3 separate regions of the Homo sapiens genome follow, and regions 1 and 3 are each linked to region 2. The links come from fine-mapping of genetic effects on gene expression. A gene starts in region 2. Each other region holds a variant in brackets. All regions are shown on one strand. Distances are from middle to middle.

Region 1 (2,758 bases), 58 kb after region 2:
AAACATAGGCTACCTGGGGTTGACACCCACCCCAGTCTTCCCTTCCTTTGCTCCCTACTAGCCTCCAGCATGCTCATGACCATGCAGCCTCCCTGGCTCCATCAGCTCAGGCTGTTACGACAAAAATACCACAGACTGGGTGGCTTCAACAACTGACATTTATTTCTCGCAGTTCTCAAGCCTGGGAAATCCAAGAGCAGGGTGCTGGCAGATTTGGCATCTGGGGAGGGCTCCCTTCCTGGTTTGCAGATGGCCGTCTTCTGGCTGTGTCCTCATGGGGTGGAAAGAGCTGGATAACTCCCTGGAGTCTTTTTTCTAAGGACGCTATTCCACTCATGAGGGTTCCACCCTCGTGGCCTAATCATCTCCCAAAGACCCCACCCCTAATACCATCACATTGAGGATTAGGGCTTCAACAGAGGAATTAGAGGGGGGCACACACATTCAGTCCTTGGCATCCTCTAACCTCACATGGAGCACAGACCCAGGAGCAGAAGGCATGGGCTGCAGGCTCCACATTAACCCCAGCTGCCTTCATGTCTCAGGGGTAAGCTGGAGTACATTCATGGTAGAATGGCCAACATAGTGAATGAATTCAGAAGCCAAAACCTGGCAAGTATCACAGGCTGGTTCATCCATTCGCATTTTTGCTCAGCAAATACTAATTGAACATTCATAGCATGCTGAATGCTGACGGGTGCTGGGGTTGATGGTGAACAGGACCCAGGTCCTGCTGCCCAGCTGTCCAGAGGGCAGTAGAGACCATGGCCAGTCCCTGTGATCAGTGCTCTGATATGGAGGTGGGGGGACCCTGGAGGGGAACCCCACCGAGCTTTGGAGTCAGGGAGGCTTCCGAGGAAGTGGCACTTACTCTGCGTTGGAAGAATGGGAAGAATGGGAAGGAAGGAGGTCTTTCTTCTCCTGTGATCACCCATTCAACACCAGGGCCCTTCAGTTCTCGCTCCCAAATGCCTCTCGTCTCTCTCCTTCCCTCTTAGGGCCCACTGCTACCCCTTGCTTCAGACCCTCATTGTTTCTTGCCCGGGTTACTGCAGCGGTCCTGCCTCCCGCCTCCCAGTCCTTTTGCTTCCTCACCGTCTATGTTATCTCTCAAATAAAATATACAGAACAACATCTGATCACATCCATCCTCTTGGTCCAACCCTTCGCGTAGGATAAGTTCTGCTTGTTTTCCTTCTAGTACTTTACTAGTTCAACTTTTAAATCTACCTACAATTTGTTTTTACTATTTTAAATAACAACTTTATTGAGCGATAATTCACATACCATAACACTCACCCTTTTATACATACAATCCAGTGTATACAGTTTTACAGATACAGTTCCATTTTCGTGTATTCAGGGTTCTATAGTTATCACCCCCATCTGAACGTTTTCCTCAGCCCCCAAAGAAACTTCACGCCCATTGACAGTCACCCCTCCTCCTGCCTCCACTCCAGCCCCAAGCAAACACAAATCTACTTTTCATCTCTTCGGATTTGCCTATTTGGGACATTTTGTATAAATGGTCTTCTGTGACTGGCTCCTTCCACTTAGCATCTTGTGTTCA[T/A]GATTCATCCATGGTGTGGCGTGTATTAGTACCTCATTCCTTTTTATTGCCAAATAACATTCCAACGTGTGGCTAGACCACAACTTGTCTGTCCACTGCTGAGCTGCTGGATGCTGACATTTGGACTCTTGGGCTCTTATGAGTAACGCTCCCGTGACCATCCCTGTTCGGGTGTTCTGGTGCACACATCTCCAGTTCTCCTGGGAGGATAACACTTTCGAACGATTCGTTTTCTTTTCCTCTCCTCAATTCCCTTTGTTTGCTCTTCCTCCTACTCAAGCAACTATGCAGTCTGGCAGCACTGTCGCAAATGGATACCTTGTTTCTCTCACTGCCTCCCATAGGGTGGGGCTTGGTTTCGATTTGTCACTTGATGTTTACTTTGATCACTTGACAACAGTGGTGTCTGCCAGCATCTCTCTTATAGAGTCATTCCTTTTTTTTTTTTTTTTTTTTTTTTGAGACGGAGTCTGGCTCTGTCGCCTAGACTAGAGTACAGTGGCACGATCTAGACTCACTGCAACCTCTGCCCCCCAGGTTCAAGTGATTCTTGTGGCTCAGCCTCCCCTGTAGCTAGGATTACAGGCGTGTGCCACCACACCTGGATAATTTTTATTAGAGATGGGCTTTTTACCATGTTGGCCTGGCTGGTCTCGAACTCCTGACCTCAAGTGATCCACCCACCTCGGCCTCCCAAAGTGCTGAAATTATAGGCGTAAGCCACCATGCCCGGCCAAAGTCATTCTTTTTTCATGTTCTCTGCCATTTTGTGGGTAGGTACTTTGAAATTCTGCAAATATCTCCATTCCTCACCAAATTCTCAGTGCATTCATTTATTTTTTATATCTGTATGGATTCCTGGTTTCCTGTTATATTCAATGGAGTATAATTTTTTGTGACTATAATTTATTTTTATGTTCAGATTGTCCTAGATTTGGCCAGTGGTCACCTTTCCAAAGCAGCTTCTTGGTTTTTGACGCGTTCTTATTATTCTTTGAGCACTCCCTTCCTCTCTAAAGTCCCTCTCCACATGGTCTCTCATCTTGACCCCAAATTCTGGGTTCAAAGAGGACAGAGTGTTCATCAAGCGTGTGTGGTGTGCATGTGTGTGTGTGTGTGTGTGCGCGCGCATGTGCGTGCGTGAGTGCATGTGTGTGTGAGTGCATGCATGCATGAGTGCGTGTGTGT
Region 2 (2,758 bases):
AGCCCAGGAGCTTCAGGCTACACAGTGAGCTACCACTACACTGAGGCCTGGTGACAAAGCAAGACCCAGTCTCAATCAAACAATCAATAAAAGGGAATTTAAAAAACGTTTGCGTTTGTGGGTAAAAAACCAAATTAGACATGATTTCTAGGTATGAAGCAACGTGGTGGGAGACTGAAAGTCTAGGTAAACTGGAAAAAAACATTATTTGTGCCTGATATAGTTATGTGGTCTCTGGCATCTGGTGTAGCTCTGCCCTTGGAAAGCTCAACTTGTCAACATCACCTTAAAACGAAAACACAGATTTGGCTACACTTAATAGTGAAGTGCCTTGTTGGAGGAAAACAACAAGGGGGCCAAGTAAGGAGACAGAAATACCTAATCTCCAAGCTGGTTCTTAATGGAACCGAGCAAATGGGTGATGAATAACCCGGGAACGCAGTAAGACAGGCCAGAGAGGTAATGCGCCCAAGAGAAGAGAGACGAGGGGCGGCCAGGGGGAGAGGAAGCTCGAGAGGAATCGCTAGGAAGGAAACGGAGAAGACCACGCCAGGACAGCCCTGCCAGCCCCCTACCTCCGGCGGGGCCGCAGGGGAGAGTCTCACTCGAGTCGGACGCCGCAGCCCGGTGGGGCCCGGGCCCCGCTTCAAAAACAGCCGGGGCTGCGTCGCCGCTGTCATCCCACCCCACCCTCCACCCGTCGCTCCCCCACCGCGCGCCCCGCCCGGCCCGTGCGCCCGACCCAGGCTCCCTCCCTAGAGTCCCGACCTCTAGCCCTGTACCCCACTTCCCAGGGTCCCGTCCTCCAGCCCCTTAAGCCCCTCCCCAGGGTCTGGTCCCCCGGCCCCGCACCCCTCCCCAGGGGCCCGTCCCCCGGCGCTGAACCCGCACCTCCCTCCCCAGGGTCCAGTCCCCAGCCCTGCACTCGCACTCCCCTCCCAGGCCCGAGCCCGCTCCCGCCCTCCCGGCCCTGGGCTCTCAGCACCAGGCTCCCGCCCTCAGCCTCTTCTCCTCCCGCGCCCGCCGCCGCTCCTCACCTCCTCGGCGGCCGCCGCTGCACTCGCTGGGTCTTGGTTGCGGCGAAACCCGGGGCGCAGCGGCGCAGGGGTCTGGAGCCCGCAGGGGTCGCCGGGCTGAGCGCGCTCGGCCGCTTCCGGTGCTGCGCTGCGGAACTCAGAGGACTTAGTGCTCGGCAAGCCCAGAGACTCAAACACCATATCCCTGGGGGGGCTCCTCACGCTGTGTTCGGCAGGGAGGCGAGAGCGCCGGTTCAGCCAGAGACAGCTGGGGGAACCGCGCCGAACACGCTCCGGGCGGCCATTTTGTAACTCGAATCTACCCCCAAAACCAATTCGAAAAAAAGGGAGGAAAGAAACGCCCGCGTTCAGCTACTGCGCAAGCGCGCCGGCGCTTCCGGCAGTAGCACCTCCTTCCGCCGGCCGGGCCCCTTACGCGGCGCATGCGCCCAGCTCCCTGGAAACCGGCGCGGGGCTGAGAATGCCGGTCTCGCGCAAGCGCGCACGCGCCGACCTTGATCTCGTAGCCGGCGCCAGCAGCCGCGCTTTGGGGCGTCGGCTCACGTGGGGCCGGCAACGCGTCTTCCAGGATGTTCGCGCGCTAGTCGCCGCTGAGGGGCCGGCGATGCGCGAGGAGTTCCGGCGAGGAAGGTCGGTCAGTGGACATGGCCGAGGCCCGCGGTGTCCGCGTGTGGGAGCTGCAGGGCTGAGGAGAGGCCGCCCGCAACCCTCGGGAATCGTGTGAGGTGCCACTGGGGTCGCTTCACATCAGGAGGCCCCGTCTCGGGGGACGCGCGCAGGTGACCCTGCTGGTCGTACCTGGCCGGGGTGGCCCGGAGGGGCTGGGTCTCGGCGCCAGGAGGGGCCGTGTGGGCCGCCTGTTAAAGGACCCCTCGTTCGCTGACATTTGATTTTGCATTGGGTGCCTTCTCTTCTGTTTTTTTCAGCCAGTGAGATCCGTCCTGGGCACTCAGCTGTAGAGCAGGGGAACGAGTCCTGCGCTTTTTGCGCTGAGGTCTCCTGGCCCGTAGGCCAGGCAGCCTCTGAGCTCCTTTCTCACCAGCAGCTTGCGATCCCTCATCCCTGGCCCTGTCACTCCCAGCTGTTTCCAGTGCCGCCCTTTTTTTTTTTTTTTTTTTGAGATGGAGAGTTTAACTTGTTCGCCCAGGCTGGAGTGAAGTGGCACGATCTTGGCCTACTGCAACCTCTGCCTCCCGGATTCAAGCGATTCTCCTGCCTCAGCCTCCCGAGTAGTTGGGATTACAGTCGTGCGCCACCACGCCCGGCTAATGTTTATATTTTTAGTAGAGACGGGTTTTCACCATATTGGTCAGGCTGGTCTCGAACTCGTGACCTCAGGTGATTCCCTCCCCCCGCCCCACCACCTCAGCCTCCCAAAGTGCTGGGATTACAGGCCTGAGCCACCGTTCCCGGCCTCGAGCGCCTTCTTATAAACTGGATGGTGGTTTTTGTTTTCACCTTCAAAGTCGAATCTCCCTAGTCCGTTTATTACCAGAAAGAGGTCTCCACTCAGACCCAGCGAGAGGCTTCTTGGATGTCGCGTAGGAAAGAATTCGGGGCGAGTCCACGGACTAAAGTGAAAGCAAGTGTATTAGAGAAGTGAGAAAGCAAAAGAATGGCAGAGCAGGGCATTCCTGAAAGCGGGAGGAGGAAGGCGCCCGCCTTAGGTACAGTGCTTGTTCAAATCTAAGGTAACACAGCCAAAGAAATCTTGGGGGACA
Region 3 (2,758 bases), 62 kb after region 2:
AGACAGACTTACTCTGTGCAACATGGCAGCTCCCGGCTTCCATGACCCTCGGTGCTTGAGTGCCCCAAAGGAGAGAAATTCCCTTTCCCCAAGTGTTCAGCTCTGCCAGGCTGCCATCCCCTCCCCACCCCATCGGGCACTACATCTGTGCTTTGGGGGCTGCTCAGGAGCCTGCCTGACCTGGGGGAAGCAGGGACATCCACGCCGAATTACACAGAGCAGGACAGCAGCAGGCAGCAAAGGAAAGGGGAAGGAACCCGAGCAGGGAGAAGCAACAAGTGTCAATTAATCATAGGAGGTGAGGCCAGCTTTTGCCTGCAGTCAAGGGACATGAATATTGAGACTCTAGGTCAGCAAGTGACTTGTTTTAGCTCTTACCTATAGGACAAGAACTTAAGAATCTCTTCTGCTTCTCCACTCTGTGCTCTTTTTCCTGCATCTTTTTTGAGATAGAGTCTTGCTCTGTTGCTCCCCAACCCCCATCTTTTTTGAGATAGAGTCTTGCTCTGTTGCTCAGGCTGGGGTGCAGTGGTGCAATCTCAGCTCACTGCAGTCTCGACCTCCTGGGCTCGAGCTATCTTCCCACCTCAGCCTCCTGAGTAGCTAAGACTACAGGTGCATGCCACCATTCCCAGCTAATCTAAAACAATTTTTTTTTTTTGTAGAGACAGGGATCTCACTATGTTGCCCAGGCTGTTCTTGAACTCCTGGGCTCAAGCGATCCTCCTGCCTTGGCCTCTCAAAGCATCAGAATTACAGCCACTGTCCCTGGCCCCTGCACTTTTTACTAAAATCTCTTGATGTTGTGAAGTAAGTCCCTGTCCTGATGGGACTTGGCCATGGCATTCCCTAGGCATTAATTTTGTTGCTAGAACTTGGACACATGGTCAGAGTGGAATCTTGAGACTTTTTTCTTTGTAAGATCTTATATTATTATTATTACTTGCATATTCATTGTAGAAAATTTTAGAAAATACTAAAACTCATAATCCAGTCTCTGAAAGGTAGCCACGGCCAACAGGTTGGCATATTTCTTTCTTTATACCTGGGTACGCTGGTGCTCTATGTACAATTGTGTACCTGCTTTCTAAACTAGAAAATCTCAAGCTCCTCAAGTTGGTAGCGTGATGATTGGCCTGGGACTCCTGAAGTTCCAGCCTCAGGACAGGACAGGACCTGTCCCTGGGACCATGTCCGCTAGCAAGGGGCACAGATGACTTCCCATTTCTGCCTGGC[C/T]ACATGGCTCCCGATGCTTGGGCTCAGTCTGCAGATGTGATGGAGGAGGAAGGACACGTGCCTCCTTGCTCTGTCTGCTCTCCTTTTCTCTTTGCGCCACCCGGTGGCAGATGAGCAGGACATCCACACTGTCTTTGATGGTTAGGTGCACGACCCCTGACTCCTCACCCCCCCACCTCACCCTAGAAGGATTTGTGAAGATGGTTTCTGAGTGTTCGATGGCCTTCTAGGCTGACAGCGGTGGGTCCCCGGCGATGGTTCTGGCACACCCCCAGCCCATTTACGAAATGCACGCTGTTTACTCCGCGTCTCTTGAGTGGGTCCCAGGGGACCATTTTCCTCCCTTAGGTAAGTCCAAGCTTAGAGAAGTTCAGCACACACAGATTATGCACTCAGCCGACTGAAATGATTTTCTGTTGCGATTAGAGTCAATGGTGAAAATCACACACATCACTTCGTGAAGTAAATTATTGTTCGCTTGATAGATCCTAATAGCTCTCCAGAGTTGTTAAGGCCTAAACAGTCCATGGAGAGTTTGGGGAGGTAGGAGGGTGGGAGGCAGGGGGAGACAGAGTGGGTGAGGGGGGAGGGGAGAAGGGGAGTCTCATCATTCCAGAAAGCAAGGCACGATAAGACTGGCATGCGATGCGCTCTTACTGGAACTCCAATCCTTAACTACTTCTGTACTTCATGGGCTCATAAATATCGCCGAGTCCTTTTCTGTATTTCCGTGCACAACTTTCTGTTTGGCTGATGCCCAGCTCTCTCTTTTTCTGTCAACCCGTTGTCATGCGTGTAAAACACAGAGGAAAGTGCCGGCTGTTAATGTCATCATCGTGCACAGCTGGCTCCTGCTCTGCTTCGAAGCTTAACTCAAGATCCACCTCTGGGTGATACACGACCCTCTACACCCCCTTTCCTCTGAACGCTGATGATGGTGACAGTGATGATTATGACGAAAGCAATGGTGATGGTGACGATGATGATGACAAACAATACCCATTGGCCACTGTCCGTGGGTCCAGCACCGCCTTCTTCAAGACCCTATTCTAAATCCTTTATTCATATCAATCAGTTTAATAGATGGTGTGTCAAGGGAAGCCAGCTGATGTTATCCCTGTTACACGAATCAGGAAACTGAGGCAGGAGAGGCTGAGTGACCCTCCCCGGTCAATACGGCTTGTTAGATGCAGAGTGAGGATCTGAACTCAGGCCCCCAGGCCCTCGTGGGTGAGGCTGCCTCTCCAGGGATCATAGCACTTGGTTTGGCACTTGTACCCCTGCAGGAATTATGAGCTAACTGTCTACACTGCTAAGCTGCCTCCCAGTCTCAAAGCTAAAGAAACCCTCAATCCCCAAAGTGTAGGTAGTAAGCGCTTAACTAATGTGGAGCAGCTGGCAAAGGCCCTGGGGTGGGGGGCAGATAGGGAAGTGCTTTCATTTCACAGTAACAGGCCCTCCTTGGGCTCCAAATACATAAAGGGAACTTTGCGGCCACACCCCAGGTCCTGCTGAACACTGG

Which allele goes with the higher level. Alleles are on the strand shown, and positions count from the first base shown. SD is a standard deviation of normalised expression in the study named. Not every link is listed here.
In carriers of allele A in region 1, the expression in subcutaneous fat of the gene that starts at base 1,409 in region 2 tends to be lower than with T alone (small effect, 0.33 SD a copy in GTEx).

Evidence for each region. PIP is the estimated chance that this variant, and not a neighbour inherited with it, causes the effect.
Region 1: its variant is fine-mapped to the expression of NUP50 in subcutaneous fat (GTEx, PIP above 0.99). The same link has a PIP of 0.9 or more in unexposed skin.
Region 3: its variant is fine-mapped to the expression of NUP50 in whole blood (INTERVAL, PIP above 0.99).

Annotation. Positions count from the first base shown.
Region 1 is chr22:45,104,508-45,107,265 of GRCh38, reverse strand. No RefSeq gene overlaps it. Among named protein-coding and RNA genes, the nearest start is that of NUP50-DT, 58 kb to the left of the region's middle. The variant T/A (reference allele first, on the strand shown) is at 1,571.
Region 2 is chr22:45,162,576-45,165,333 of GRCh38, reverse strand. It overlaps NUP50 (nucleoporin 50), which reads right to left and starts at 1,409. Exons shown (of 8, transcript NM_007172.4): 1 at 1,038-1,409. It overlaps NUP50-DT (NUP50 divergent transcript), which reads left to right and starts at 1,553. Exons shown (of 3, transcript NR_038956.1): 1 at 1,553-1,757. RefSeq lists silencers at 638-817, 848-1,077, 1,848-1,897 and an enhancer at 958-1,480.
Region 3 is chr22:45,100,601-45,103,358 of GRCh38, reverse strand. No RefSeq gene overlaps it. Among named protein-coding and RNA genes, the nearest start is that of NUP50-DT, 62 kb to the left of the region's middle. The variant C/T (reference allele first, on the strand shown) is at 1,237.